Homo sapiens: one gene and its partners. The protein of the gene in region 1 purifies or fractionates together with the protein of each later gene. This does not show direct contact. Each region holds a gene or a part of one and is shown in the gene's direction. Other genes may lie near its edges.

Region 1 (3,500 bases):
TCAGGGTGGCCGTGCTCTGAGGGCTCAGGGAAGAGGGATGTGATGGAGAGAGGGAGCACTCAGGAGCAAGAGCTGGGGCCTGGGGACCAGAGGGGTGTTGGCAGAAGACTGATGGGGTCTGGGTGGTCCTGGGGCTGTGCACTCTGCCAGAAGAGGGACTCAGTAGGGCTGGCTGAGCTCCAAGCCTGCGCTGTCAGTAACCAGCGTGTCCTGGGGCCTAAGGGGTGGTTGTTTCTCTTGTGAAGCAGATGGTAGGGGACGTGGTTTAAAGTTAATGGGGTTACTCTTCTTTTCAGACTGGAAAAAGTCTATAATCTTGTAAAGGAAACCATGCCAAAGAAGCCGGATGCACAATCAGGTGTGTGAGGGGCTTTGGGCTGGGAGGCCCCGGCTCCTACACTGTGGCTCCGGAAGGGCTGCTGTGCTAGAGCTTGTCAGGCCCGGACCTGGAGAGGGTGGAGGGCTCTCACCGTTCACCCTTCACCCTCCTTCCTTTCCTGCCACCCACAGACCGCAGCTGGTCGCTTGCCCAGCAGCAGAGCCTCAGGGACGGAGGCTTGCGGATTCCAGGGCTGAGTCTGGGTTCCAGGTCTCTGAGGCTCACTCACCCTCTTGGGTCAACAAGCGGGCCCGGAAGAGCTGCTGGGGGGAGGAACTCAGCAGCACCCTTCCCCGCATGACTCTCGGCACGCTGGGACGGTTCTCTCTTCCACTGATGGGGTGGCTGATTTTCGAGAAAGGTTGGGGATGAGACCAGGACGGGACCACTTGCTGCAGCCCCGCGGTCCCCTGCTGGGCTTTTGGCTTCAGATCCCTGTGCCCTCCTGAGCAGTGCTGCCTCCCTCCCCGCAGGGCCTGCCGGGCTGGTCTGTGGGGACCAGCGGATCCAAGTAGCCAAAACCAAGGCCCAGCAGAACCACGCGTTGCTGGAGCGGGAGCTGCAGCGGCGGAAGGAGCAGCTGCGGGTGCCTGCGGTCCCGCCCGGTGTGCGGATCAAGGAGGAGCCCGTGAGCGAGGAGGGCGAGGAGGACGAGGAGCAGGAGGCGGAGGAGGAGCCCATGGACACTTCCCCCAGCGGCCTCCACAGCAAGCTGGCCAACGGGCTGCCTCTCGGGCGGGCTGCGGGCACAGACAGCTTCAACGGGCACCCGCCCCAGGGCTGCGCCAGCACCCCTGTGGCTCGGGAACTGAAGGCCTTCGTGGAGGCCACCTTTCAGAGACAGTTTGTGCTCACGCTGAGCGAACTCAAGCGCCTCTTCAATCTGCACTTGGCCAGCCTGCCCCCCGGCCACACACTCTTCAGCGGCATCTCGGACCGCATGCTACAGGACACGGTGCTGGCCGCCGGTTGCAAGCAGATACTGGTGCCTGTAAGTAGAGCCCTGCCTGCCAGGGGCATGGGGGGTGGGGGGTGGGGAGAACCAGCTGTTGGGAGGCCACGTGGGGACACGGGAGGCCATGCTTGGTGAGCATCTGCTCTCACGTGGGCCTAGGTGTGACATGGGCAAGTCAGCCTCTCTGAGGCTCTATTCTCATGAAATGGGATCATGTTGGGTTTTATGTCACAGGACTGTGGTAGGGGCTAAATACGGTGTCTGAAGGCCCGGCCTATTGCCTGGCCTGCAGCAGGGCCTAGTGAAACAGGGCCCCTGCCTGGTTTCTCACCCTGTCCCCCACCAAGAACACCTGTTTCCTACTAGCTTTGCCATTGTTTGGAATGATTTAACTTCTAAGATCGTTTGATCTTCTTTGCAATCTGCAGATGAAGAAACTGAGGCTCCAAGGAATGAAATGTACGTTTAAAGGTCACTACCTAGGAGGTAGTAGAGCTGGAATTTGGACCTCAGTATAGTGGCCTGGAGTTTTGAATCCTTTCTGCTCAGCTAAGATGAGCTGCTTCCCCACAGCTGCGCCACGCCCCAGCTTGGGCCTGGGTCCTGGCGGCCTCCCTGTGCATCAGAAGCAAGCTGACCAGCTCAGCGCTGTGCTCTCAGCACTTCCAGTGCCAGGCCTTGAGTGTGGTATTGCAAGCCTCCTGCCCCTTCCCCCTGGGCTGCTTTTCTGTCACTGGGAGGGGCCCTGACGGGGGAGCAGAGTGCTTGCTGGGGACCGTTTCCCTGCGCTGAGGATAGAGAGCGCCAGGTGCTGCCTGAGGCACGCCTTTCCCGTGCTCCTTTTCCACAAGGCTCTGCCCAGACCTGGCAGCAAAATGGGGTGAGGTGGGGCTGTGGTGGTCTCTAAGAAAGCATTGATGTTTTCATTGCCAAGGTCAGGAGCGGGCCTGCAGCCTTGGGTGATGATCTGAGGCCAAGGCCCATCCCTGTGTATGAGGAATAGAAACTAGGACAGGAGGCCTTGTGGAGCCTAGGCTGTCTCAGGGGATCGGCCCTGCTGGCAGGCAGCCCCCTGTGGGAGGTACTGGCAGAGTTCGGAGCTCCTGCCCACCCAGCACATGGGTCTGGGTCTCCACAAGCTCACCTTTCTTCATGAGCTGGGCCAGGACAGGCAGGACACCTGCCTGACATTAGTTGTTTTGGGCCGCTGGAGTGGACAGAGGTGAGGGGTGGGACATGGCCACCCTCAGACACCCTCACCCCTCCTTCCGGACCCCCTCTGTCCATGTTGCTTTGGGGTGGGGCCAGCGTCTCCAGGAGACACCATGGCCCTAACTGTAATGCTCTCCTTGCCATCCTGACAAGGAGACTGTATTGTAGTCACATCCAAGACGTAAGAGACCTCCGATCCCAGCCACCTCTGTGTTGTACATGAGGGAGCTGAGGTCCAGGGCAAGTGAATAGATCGAGAACTTGACTTGAACTCCTGGTTCTGCTGCTTATTAGCTGTGTGACCATGGACAGTGAGCAAACCTCTCTGAGCTTACTTTTCCCCATGTACTACCTCCCCAGTTTCTAATGCTCAAATGCAAATGTGTATTGGAGGCCTCACAGGGCTTTTACTGGTAGTAACCATTATTGCTACTTGTGTGATGGAACCAGGACTGGAAACTACCATCCCAGATGCCCCCTCCCCTGTCCCCTTCTCTCCAGGACCCAGGCCTGTGTCACACTTGTCCTGGTCTACCTTTGGACCAAGTGGCCTGGATTGCTTGGGAGTCAGGCAGTGCCTCTAACCCACACTGACATGGTACATGTGGGAAGCAGTTGAAAAGAACCCCCAGGGTACCCCAAGAGTTATGGGGAAGGGGGCGCCCCTCCATCAGGGTTGGCATCTTCAGGAGGGAGGACTCTGGGTGTTAAAGCACAGTTGAGTTGGTGCCAGGCTGATGGGAAACAGACGCAGCTTCCCCACTGTACGGAGGATATCTGCAGACTCGAAGCCGGGCATTTCACTGGGCCCATCACACTCCCCCTCTCGCTGAAGCCCTGTCAGGCCCTGGGGGGTGTGCTGGCCTCCTCCCCATGGTGAGGTGAGAGGCACAGGTTTGTGGCTGCCCAAGGCCCTCAGAGATGGTGAGTAGCAGAAGCTGGGATTGGAACCCA
Region 2 (3,500 bases), on another chromosome or scaffold:
AAACTTTTGTTCATCAGAAGTTTCAAAAAAAAAATGAAAAGAGAAGCCACAAAGCAGAATGTTAACTGACCATAGAATCATATCTAGAATATATGATCTATAAGAAAAAGACAGACAAACTAATAGAAAAATTTACACAAGGAACTTGAATGGCTAATAAACATATGAAAAGATGCTAAATATTATCAGTAATCAGAGAAATAGCAAATAAAAACACACTGAGTTTTGTTTTCACAGCCCACAAAATTGCGAATGTTAGGAAATCTTTTTGCAACTAGTGGGAATGAAAATTGGTACAGCCTTTTTGAGAAATGGCTTGGCATTTGTCTGGTGAAGTCTTTGCACATTCTCTATAATTAAGCCTTTCTATTCCTTGGTATAAACCCTAAAAAAATTCTTACACATGTACACCAGCATGTATGTATAAAAATGTTTATAGCTGGATAAACAATGTCGTATATACACACAATGGAATATTAGCCTTTAAAAAAAGGAAGGAAATTCTGACACATGCTACAAGGTGGATGAACCTTGAAGATAATATGCTAAGTGAAATAAGCCAGCACAAAAGGACAAATACTGTATGCTTTCACTTATATGAGGTACCTAGAGAAGTCAGATTAACAGAGACAGAAAGTAGAATGATCATCAAGAGAGGTGGGAATGGGAAGTTAGTGTATAGGGTTTCAGTTCTGTAAGATAAAAAGAGTTCTAAAGATGAATGGTGGTAATAGTTGCACAACAGTGTGAAGGTACTTAATACCACTGTGCTATATACTTAAAAATGCTTATGATGATAAATTTTAGATTATGTATATTTTACCACAATTGTGAACATTTTTTAATTGTAAAAAAAAGTTTATAGTAACATTGTAGTGATAGCAAAAAAATTAGAAACAACTCAATTGTCTATAAATGGTAAAGTGTAATACTCTAACAATGGAATGTAGTACACAGTGAAAATTAATAAGCTACAACTACTTGAATGAATCTTAAAAACATAATTTTAAACAAAAGAAGTGGCTAGGTACGGTGGCTCACACCTATAATTCCAGCACTTTGGGAGGCCAGGGAGAGAAGATAGAGACCAGCCTGGGCAACAAATAGAGACCCCATCTCTACAAAAAAATAAAATAGCCAGGTGTGGTGGCACGCCTGTAGTCCAAGCTACTCAGGAGGCTGAAACCAGAGGATTACTTGAGCCCAGGAGTTTGAGGCTACAGTGAGTGAGACCCTGTCCCTAAAAAAAATAAAATTTAATAAGTGAATGAAGTAAGATAAGAATGTATAACAATATTATTCCATTCAAAAAAATGTTTAAAAATAGGCAAAACTGAATATTTTTTAATAGGGATATGTACACAGGTGCTAAAACTGAAAGGAAATGAGGGAATGATTAACACCAAATTTATGGTAGTGGTTACTTCTGGGGAATGCGGAGGGTGATGCAGTTGGGAAGGGGCACATAGAGGCCTTCAAAGGTTCAGTATCTTATTTCTTACCTTGGGTGGTAGATCTGTAGGTTTCCATTTTATTCTTTGAACGATACATTTATGTTTTATACTCTCAACTGTATGTAGGTAATGTTTCATGATAAGAAAAAAACTAGATTTATAATGTTCTTTTCAGTCTTTTTGCAGCAATTTTTGTTATCAAGCATCTAAGTTTTTTGAAGCACAAATTCCCAAAACTCCAGTATGGGTTCGAGAAGAAGAGAGGTAATTTAAGTCATTGTGTATATACATTTGTTCATATATTCTAATAATTTGTTTCTGCTTTTTGAGATTAGCTGAGAGTAAGTCTAGTTTTCTGTAAAAAGTTACCATTTTATATACTTTATGGGGAAATGGTTATATTTTAAGCATAGCTATTAAGGATTTTACACTTAAAATCAGAAAATGCATACATACAAATGTTATTTGTTTGTTGTTTTAGCTTTAATTGCAAAATCAGAACTTTAACTCCAGTGTCCTGTGATGCTAGTTATGTCTGTGAATCCTGTTAATATAATAATCCTGGAGGAAGAATGTTAAATTTTTTCAGAAGTTACTGGGTCTTAGGATCCAGGTGAACTCTGCTATGAGAAAGGTTAGAAAGTTCAGGTTCATTTAATCTTTATAAAAATCAGTACACTATTTTATCAATTTAAAGACACAATTAAAAAGTAATTTTTTTTTTTGTAAAAAGAGTTTATGGGCAATGCTGGAGTTTAGCCTCTTGGGAAATGATTTAAATACTGGCAATGTTTTACTAGATGCTAAAGTCAAGAAAATTTTATTATTGAGGGTGAAATGGCATGATAATATAAAGGTAACAAGTTATCCTTATGGTAATTAAACTGTATTGCCTAGAAATTCCAATGAAATGCTTAATGAGATAATGCCCAAAATAAATTCATGTTTGAAAGAGTGTATTATAGCAACACAAGGCAGTGTTACTTGTGGTAAGGTAGGACCTATGCTAAATAAACTAATGACCTAAACATAATGAGATGCAGGTTAGCTAAAAAGCTCTGGCTCAAAAAAAAAAAAGCAAACCTTGAAGTCTTTTCTGATGCGTAAGGCGATGTAACACCACTCTCAATTCAAATAACATCAATTATGCTGACAACAGCACCTGTGATGGCAGACACCTCTGCCTGCCGATCCAATCCTGTGTGGTTTAGGATATGGAAAACTTAACACTGTGTGGCCCTTGATAATTGAGTTAAACATAATTAAGACTAAATTGTTCATCATTTCACCACCAGTCTGCCAGCTTCCTTGTTGGGAAAATAAAAGACTCTGGCATTGTTCGACATGACTGGGAAGCTAAGAGTACTTTTTTACTTATCCTTTTTCTCCTTTCTTAATATTTCTGTCACTAGAGCTGCCCAGTACTTCCCCAGTCCTCTGAGAGCAACATGTTTTATTCCCCACTGAAACCAGTGTTTCCTCAAGTTATCCTTAACTTTGCTTCCAAAGATATTTTCTCTACATCTTAAATTTAACCCTTTGTGCCACCCTCATATCTACCTCAACTGCTTCAAAACCATTTACCAAATTACCTTTCCTGCCATCTCTGTTTTCTTCAAGCATAGGTATTGGTCCTTCCTTTAGCTAATTTAAAACAAATCTTCCAGCCTGGTGTAGTGGCTCATGCCTATAATCCCAACACTTTGAGAAGCCAAGGTGGGTGGATCACTTGAGTTTAGGAATTTGAGACCAGCTTAGCCAATATGGTGATACCCTGTCTCTACTAAAAATACAAAAATTAATTGGGTATGGTGGCGGGCACCTGTAATCCCAGCTACTCAGGAGGCTGAGGCAGGAGAATCACTTGAACCTGGGAGGCGGAGGTTGCAGTGAGCCAAGATCGTGCTGCTGAACTCTAGCCTGGGCCACAGAGTGAGATTCTGTCTCAAAAATTAAATAAATAAATAAAATGAAGTAAAACAGGTCTTCCTGTAACCTTTTCCTAAAATCTCACCATCCTCTATTCAGAATGCTCACTGTTTCCCA
Region 3 (3,500 bases), on another chromosome or scaffold:
CAACATCTTTACAGCAGAGATATTTAGCTACTGGAGATTTTGGTGGAAACCTTCATATATGGTAAGATGATTTAGTCAGTATTCAGACAGATGAGATAGGCAATTTATTTGATAGTTTCATTACTCTTTCTCTGAAAGAGAGAATTTTAATTTTAAAATCTTTCTATGTTCCATTTTAACTATAAAAATATGAGAATTGTCTCTAATATATATTTCTAGATTTCATATTCAAAATCCATTAAAAAATACTAACCTATTTTTCTTTAGATATTTTGGATAATATTATCAATGCTTATTTTCACACACGCAGTTTGGTGCTAGCATTTAATGCCATGTATTTGTAAATAAAGGTCTGTTCCCCCTCCAACTTTAAAAATACAGTATATAAAAATGCATATGAATAACACTGAAAAAGTAGATATTATTTATATTTCAGCAAGAGATTTAGCACTGCAGAACGTTTGTTTTTTAAAGCTTTAACATCTAAGCACAACTTTTTAGAAACATATCTGTTGAACAAATCAAAATAAACTTTTTTTGAATGGGCAAAATCACAATTCTGCCAAATGCCTTTTTCGTGTTTTACCTAGAGTTGTTTCTTATTTAGAGTGGAATGAATTGAAATTCCTTTTTAATTACTTTGCAGGAAAATCTATTATTTTAATCATTTAAAGTATACAGCAGTGTTCTAAAATATTATGGAGAAAGTTCTAGAGTGTTCTAGAAAACCCGTCTTCCCTGCATCATGTTTTCTAACATGACCTTTCTTGAGTCTCACTTAGAACCTGCTACTGTATAATTACATTACTTATAACATATTTATCTGTCTTAGAATCATAACATTAAACAAAATGGAACTACTTCAATTTCTCCTTGCTTTAACTCCTTAATAATTAAATTAGCATGTATTCATTAGTTCTTAGATGCTTTGTCATATGCTTCGAGAGATACTGTGAGAAAGGCAAGTTTGAATGCTATTTTAAAAAATAAATATATTTCAACACAAGAGTATTCAAAATATTAGATAGTACCATTGACCATCTTTCTAATACAGTTTCCTAGTATAGTACAGATATTACCAATTTACTTTCATTGATAAATCTTATAATTTCATGTTAAAAAATAATGTTTTAAAGTCTATAAAATAGTAAAACAGTCATTTCAAGTAGAACCACAATCTTGTTTAATCTCTTGATTAGTTCATAATGATGATAAATGTCATTTCTAAACTAGGTTGAAATATCTCAAAAAATTTTTTTTGTCTTTGAGATGGAGTCTCGCTCTGTTGCCTAGGCTGGAGTGTAGTGATGCGATCTCGGCTCACTGCAACCTCCACCTCCCGGTTTCAAGTGATTCTCCTGCCTCAGCCTCCCAAGTAGCTAGGATTACAGGTGCCCACCACCACGCCTGGCAATTTTTTGTGTTTTTAGTAGAGATGGGGTTTCGCCATGTTGGCCAGGCTAGTCTCGAACTCCTGACCTCAGGTGATCTACTCACCTTGACCTCCCAAAGTTCTGGGATTACAGGCGTGAGCCACTGCACCTGGCCATAGATTTTTTATTAGTAAGGTTTTACTAATAAATCTTGGCCCAATAATAAATTGGAATTATATTTCATGTATAGTCACATTCATTTAAAAAATCTGTAAGTTATTGAAAACTAAATTATTAAGAGAAATGTAAATAGAAGTTTCCGTAGAAAAGCAAAAGAAGGGGAGAAATGGAGACGGGTAAGAAAAGGAATGTGTGAGGATCACCTAGTCAAGCCATTCATTGCCCAGTAGTGCAGTTGTGGTAATCAGTACTTTCCTGAATGCCTTTCTGTGAATTGACCTATTAGACGAACTTCAGCCTGTCTTGCAGTAATACATATTGTTACCAGTATGATGACACACTGAAAAATATGTCAGTAGAAAATCAGTGTGGACTTCAGTGGGAAAATAGTACATTATAAAGGAAGAAATGTGTACAAAGTAAACACTACTCATATTTTATCCTTTAAAAAGGTCATAAGATCCAACTACTGAGGCCTACTTTGGAAGAATTCTATATCACTTTGAATTTACATATATATATATTTAGATAGAAATATACTAGCTGCGTTTTAACAAAAACCTTTGCATATTTGGTGGATGGAATTTAACAATGAGTATGATGATTTAGTAAGGCCAGCTAATGGTGTCCATCTTCTATTCACCTCCCATATTTTTGTAACAGCCACTAAAACCCAGAATTGAAAAAAACTGTCCTGAGAGCCACGTCCTCAGATACATGGTTGTTTTTTTCCTTTTCTTTCTTTTTTTTTTTTTCTGAAACAGGGTCTTGCTCTGTCACCCAGGCTGGAGGGCAGTGGCATGATCTCAGCTCACTGCAGCCTTGACCTCCCTGGGCTTTACTCTATATTTGAAGCAGTATTTTTTCAGACTTCAGTGTACCACAGTCATTGTTTTGGGGACCCATCTGAAATCCTGATTCATTATGTTTGGGGAGGAGCCCATGAGTCCACGTTTATCAACAAGCAAACCTGGTAATTCATCTGTGGGGGTCTTGCATAGATCGTCTTTGAAGAACACTAAGTATGGTGAGCTCAGGATTGGAATTTCAAGTTGAATGATGACAGTTCTCAATGGGGGCTTGAAAGAAGTTGAATGGAGAGAAAATTTCAGAAGTGTAAATAAATGTATAAACTATCTTCATAGCAAAACCTTAATTTCTATACAGAAAAAATCTAACTATAATATATCTTTTTGAATTTCAGTAGTAGACTTATATGTTTGGGATATGTGGTGTAAGAAGCTGTGTTTGTTGTTTAGGAATTTAGAAGCTCCAGAGATGCCAGTATATTCTGTAAAGGGCCATAAAGAAATTATAAATGCCATAGATGGCATAGGTGGACTAGGAATTGGAGAAGGAGCACCTGAAATTGTGACTGGCAGCCGAGATGGTGAGTCCCTGTATTCTATGTATTTTGTTTATTTATTTTAATGGAAATCTCTATGCAGCAGTACATCCTCTCTGAGTAAAAAATCCCCTTCAGTCACCTTGACTCCCTAAATCTAACAGTCTTGCTGCTACTTTTTTAACAGACAAGTTTGATTGCTTATCTCTCGATTGTTTCAGACTTTTGGCTATTTTGAGATAGATTCATAGCACTTATTAACACTATTTTAGTGTTGAGCTGGTTCAGCTACTAACAATGATGGTTTCCTCTGAACCTTGAAGGATTTAAAATGTCTTTACAGGTTTTTGAGGCAGCTGACGATATAATGTGGGTGGCAGCTTTTCATTTTCTTTTTTTAAAAGGCAGAATTAGTACTTGTGAAAATTGTCATATTGACAGCTGCTTGAAAACTGAAGTTCTGTGATCCATCCACTAAGCATTATAGAGAGTTCCAAAGGCACCAACTCAGCTCTTCCACCCTGCAGTGACCAACAAGGGCCAGGTCTTTTGGTGTCCGAAGTGGTACTGCATGACTTTAATAGAGTCAGAAATGTTGTTGC
Region 4 (2,335 bases), on another chromosome or scaffold:
AAGGCATTAAATTTATGTTTGTCTCCTTTTTCTGTTTAATTTTAAAGATATTTAAAATGATATAACTAAAAATGTTTAGCTGGTGTATATGTTTTGAATACCTTTTTCCCCTCAGTTTAGTATATTGACTTTGTACTGTAAATTTTTCTGCTTTTCTTGGATAATCTCAGGATTTTCATGAGGATAGGGGGAACTCAACTTTATTTATGAGACAAAATTTCCATACAAAGCTCAATCTCCTTTATACACCCACAGACATAATATTAGTTTTTAAAAAGCCAATTTCTTCATAGTTTTTTCCCATTAAATTCTCAAGGAACACTTGGATCTTTAAGCACGGAACATAATCATGATGTTAAAAACAGAGAAAATAAGGCTTTATAAAGTTAATGATTATCATCAGTATGAATTTAAGGTTTGTTTTAATTTCAAGATTTGATTTTTTATACGTGTAATTCTATTATCTACCCAAGCAGATCTGTAGTGGTTCCAATTAGACTTCTCAAACAGCAAATTTATCCTGATTTTATTTGAAAAGCCTCTTGGATTGATAGTATAGTAGCTCAGGCATTGGAAACTTTCTGCAAACTGTTTTGGGTTTGCAGGCCAGATGGTCTCTGTGGCAGCTACTCAGCTCTGCAATTTCAGTGTGAAAGAAGCCATAGACAGTACTTGAATGAAGGACTGTGGCTGGATTGGCCTTTTAGTTTGACCCCCTACATTAGGCCCCAAATTTTCTTACCCTGAGGTGCTGATATCTGTATGGATGAGTTATTTGTCACTAAAGTTATGAGTTGTGCCTAAAAGTTAAAACTGTTGACTGTATTATGTAATGATCAGTATTTCAGTTGGGAAGATATTTTAGAGTCTAGATAATTATGTTTGTATATTGAAAAAATGGTGGCCAGTTTTTAAGTTCCTTAATAGAAGAGAATTATGTCTCAGCACATATAACAGTAATGCTAATTTATTGAAACTACTGCTGTTAGAGCACTTCTTATTCATTGTCTTTTAGTGAAATTTATGGCGTAACACTTTGTCAGAGAGGAGGCTATATAATTCGGAGCGGAAATTGTCTATAAGTAGGCATTTATTTCATGATTGATATGTCACAGAAATCATGGTAGTAAATCACATTGCTATTTGAATACCCTGTTTTTGTAAGTTTTTAAAACTCATATTCTGAAAAGATTTCATTCTCTTAGTGTTAGCTTGGGAGTTAGATTGCCATGATTAAACTATTATTTATCCTTGTGTAATATTAGTTTTTAACTTTAACATCTGTTTCTTTTTAATCTATAATGAGCTAGTTTTATGGAAAATGGAATTTCTTACTATATAAAGAATACAGAGACTCATTGTATTAGAGAATCAAGTCAGCCAGCTAAAGTATCCTACTGTTAAATCCTTAAACCTAATTTTGGAAAAGAGAAAGTTAATCAATGTATTTACCTTACATGTTGGAAAGAACTATGTTAGGTCTGATTCATGTGAAGAAGATGTTGCAAAGGATTTATTTCACAAATTTTAAAGGAGATATGAGTAAAAGTTTTTATCTTTTCTTGACTTTTTCTCCTGAACACTTATGTCTTAGCAAGTGGTCAACATGAGGATTTGAACGCCTAATTGTTGGTAAATGGTTGAGGCATGACAAAAATATTAATATCCACTGTTTACCATCATGTTATTTGAAACAAAAGTGACCATGTATACTATCTTGCTTGAAGAAGTCTTTGACAGAAAAAGCAATATCATGTCATTTATAAATTTTCTTGTTCTAAAGAAAGCAGTTATATATATATATAAATTATGTAAATAAAAGTTATTTTATATCATTTCTGTTGTGTCCTTTTAAGATGACTAAATAAAGAATTGGCTGGGTATCGTGGCTTACACCTGTAATCCCAGCACTTTCGGAGGCCGAGGTGGGAGGATTGCTTGAGCCCAGGAGTTCAAGACCAGCCTGGGCAACATAATGAGACCTCATCTCTACAAAAAAATTAAAAATCAGCCAACTGTGGTGGTGTGTGCTTTTGGTCCCAGTTACTCAGGAGGCTGGGATGAGAGGTTCGCTTGAGCCCAGGAGGAGGTTGAGGCTGCAGTGAGCTGTGATTGCCCCACCACACTCCAGCCTGGATGACAGAAGAAGACCCTGTCTTTGTGGGGAGGAGACAAATTTTTGACAGGTGTGCATGTCGTTATTTCAAAGCTGTAGGAGTCTGCAATGTGATTGTCCTAATAGTATTTGGAAGAGACTCCACACAGCATCTCTGTTTGCTGCAGCATCGCATCCTGAATCTGCTGGAGAGCCCTGTCTTACATTGGGTTTCACTAA

The links. The genes of interacting proteins can lie anywhere in the genome.
Region 2: the proteins of POLR3E (region 1) and RPAP2 purify together in Homo sapiens (affinity purification with mass spectrometry; 3 studies listed by BioGRID, with this or other methods). This does not show direct contact.
Region 3: the proteins of POLR3E (region 1) and DNAAF10 purify together in Homo sapiens (affinity purification with mass spectrometry; 3 studies listed by BioGRID and IntAct, with this or other methods). This does not show direct contact.
Region 4: the proteins of POLR3E (region 1) and BDP1 purify together in Homo sapiens (affinity purification with mass spectrometry; 2 studies listed by BioGRID and IntAct, with this or other methods). This does not show direct contact.

The regions. Positions count from the first base shown.
Region 1 is NC_000016.10:22,324,909-22,328,408, forward strand, and holds part of POLR3E (DNA-directed RNA polymerase III subunit RPC5), read left to right. Parts: intron 1-296; coding exon 297-358; intron 359-852; coding exon 853-1,370; intron 1,371-1,762; coding exon of another isoform or gene 1,763-1,852; exon of another isoform or gene 1,853-3,500. UniProt on the Homo sapiens protein: DNA-dependent RNA polymerase catalyzes the transcription of DNA into RNA using the four ribonucleoside triphosphates as substrates.
Region 2 is NC_000001.11:92,305,559-92,309,058, forward strand, and holds part of RPAP2 (putative RNA polymerase II subunit B1 CTD phosphatase RPAP2), read left to right. Parts: intron 1-1,629; coding exon 1,630-1,718; intron 1,719-3,500.
Region 3 is NC_000002.12:68,144,028-68,147,527, reverse strand, and holds part of DNAAF10 (dynein axonemal assembly factor 10), read left to right. Parts: coding exon 1-61; intron 62-2,812; coding exon 2,813-2,943; intron 2,944-3,500. UniProt on the Homo sapiens protein: Key assembly factor specifically required for the stability of axonemal dynein heavy chains in cytoplasm.
Region 4 is NC_000005.10:71,565,986-71,568,320, forward strand, and holds the end of BDP1 (transcription factor TFIIIB component B'' homolog), read left to right. Parts: 3' UTR 1-1,835; downstream 1,836-2,335. UniProt on the Homo sapiens protein: General activator of RNA polymerase III transcription. Requires for transcription from all three types of polymerase III promoters. Requires for transcription of genes with internal promoter elements and with promoter elements upstream of the initiation site.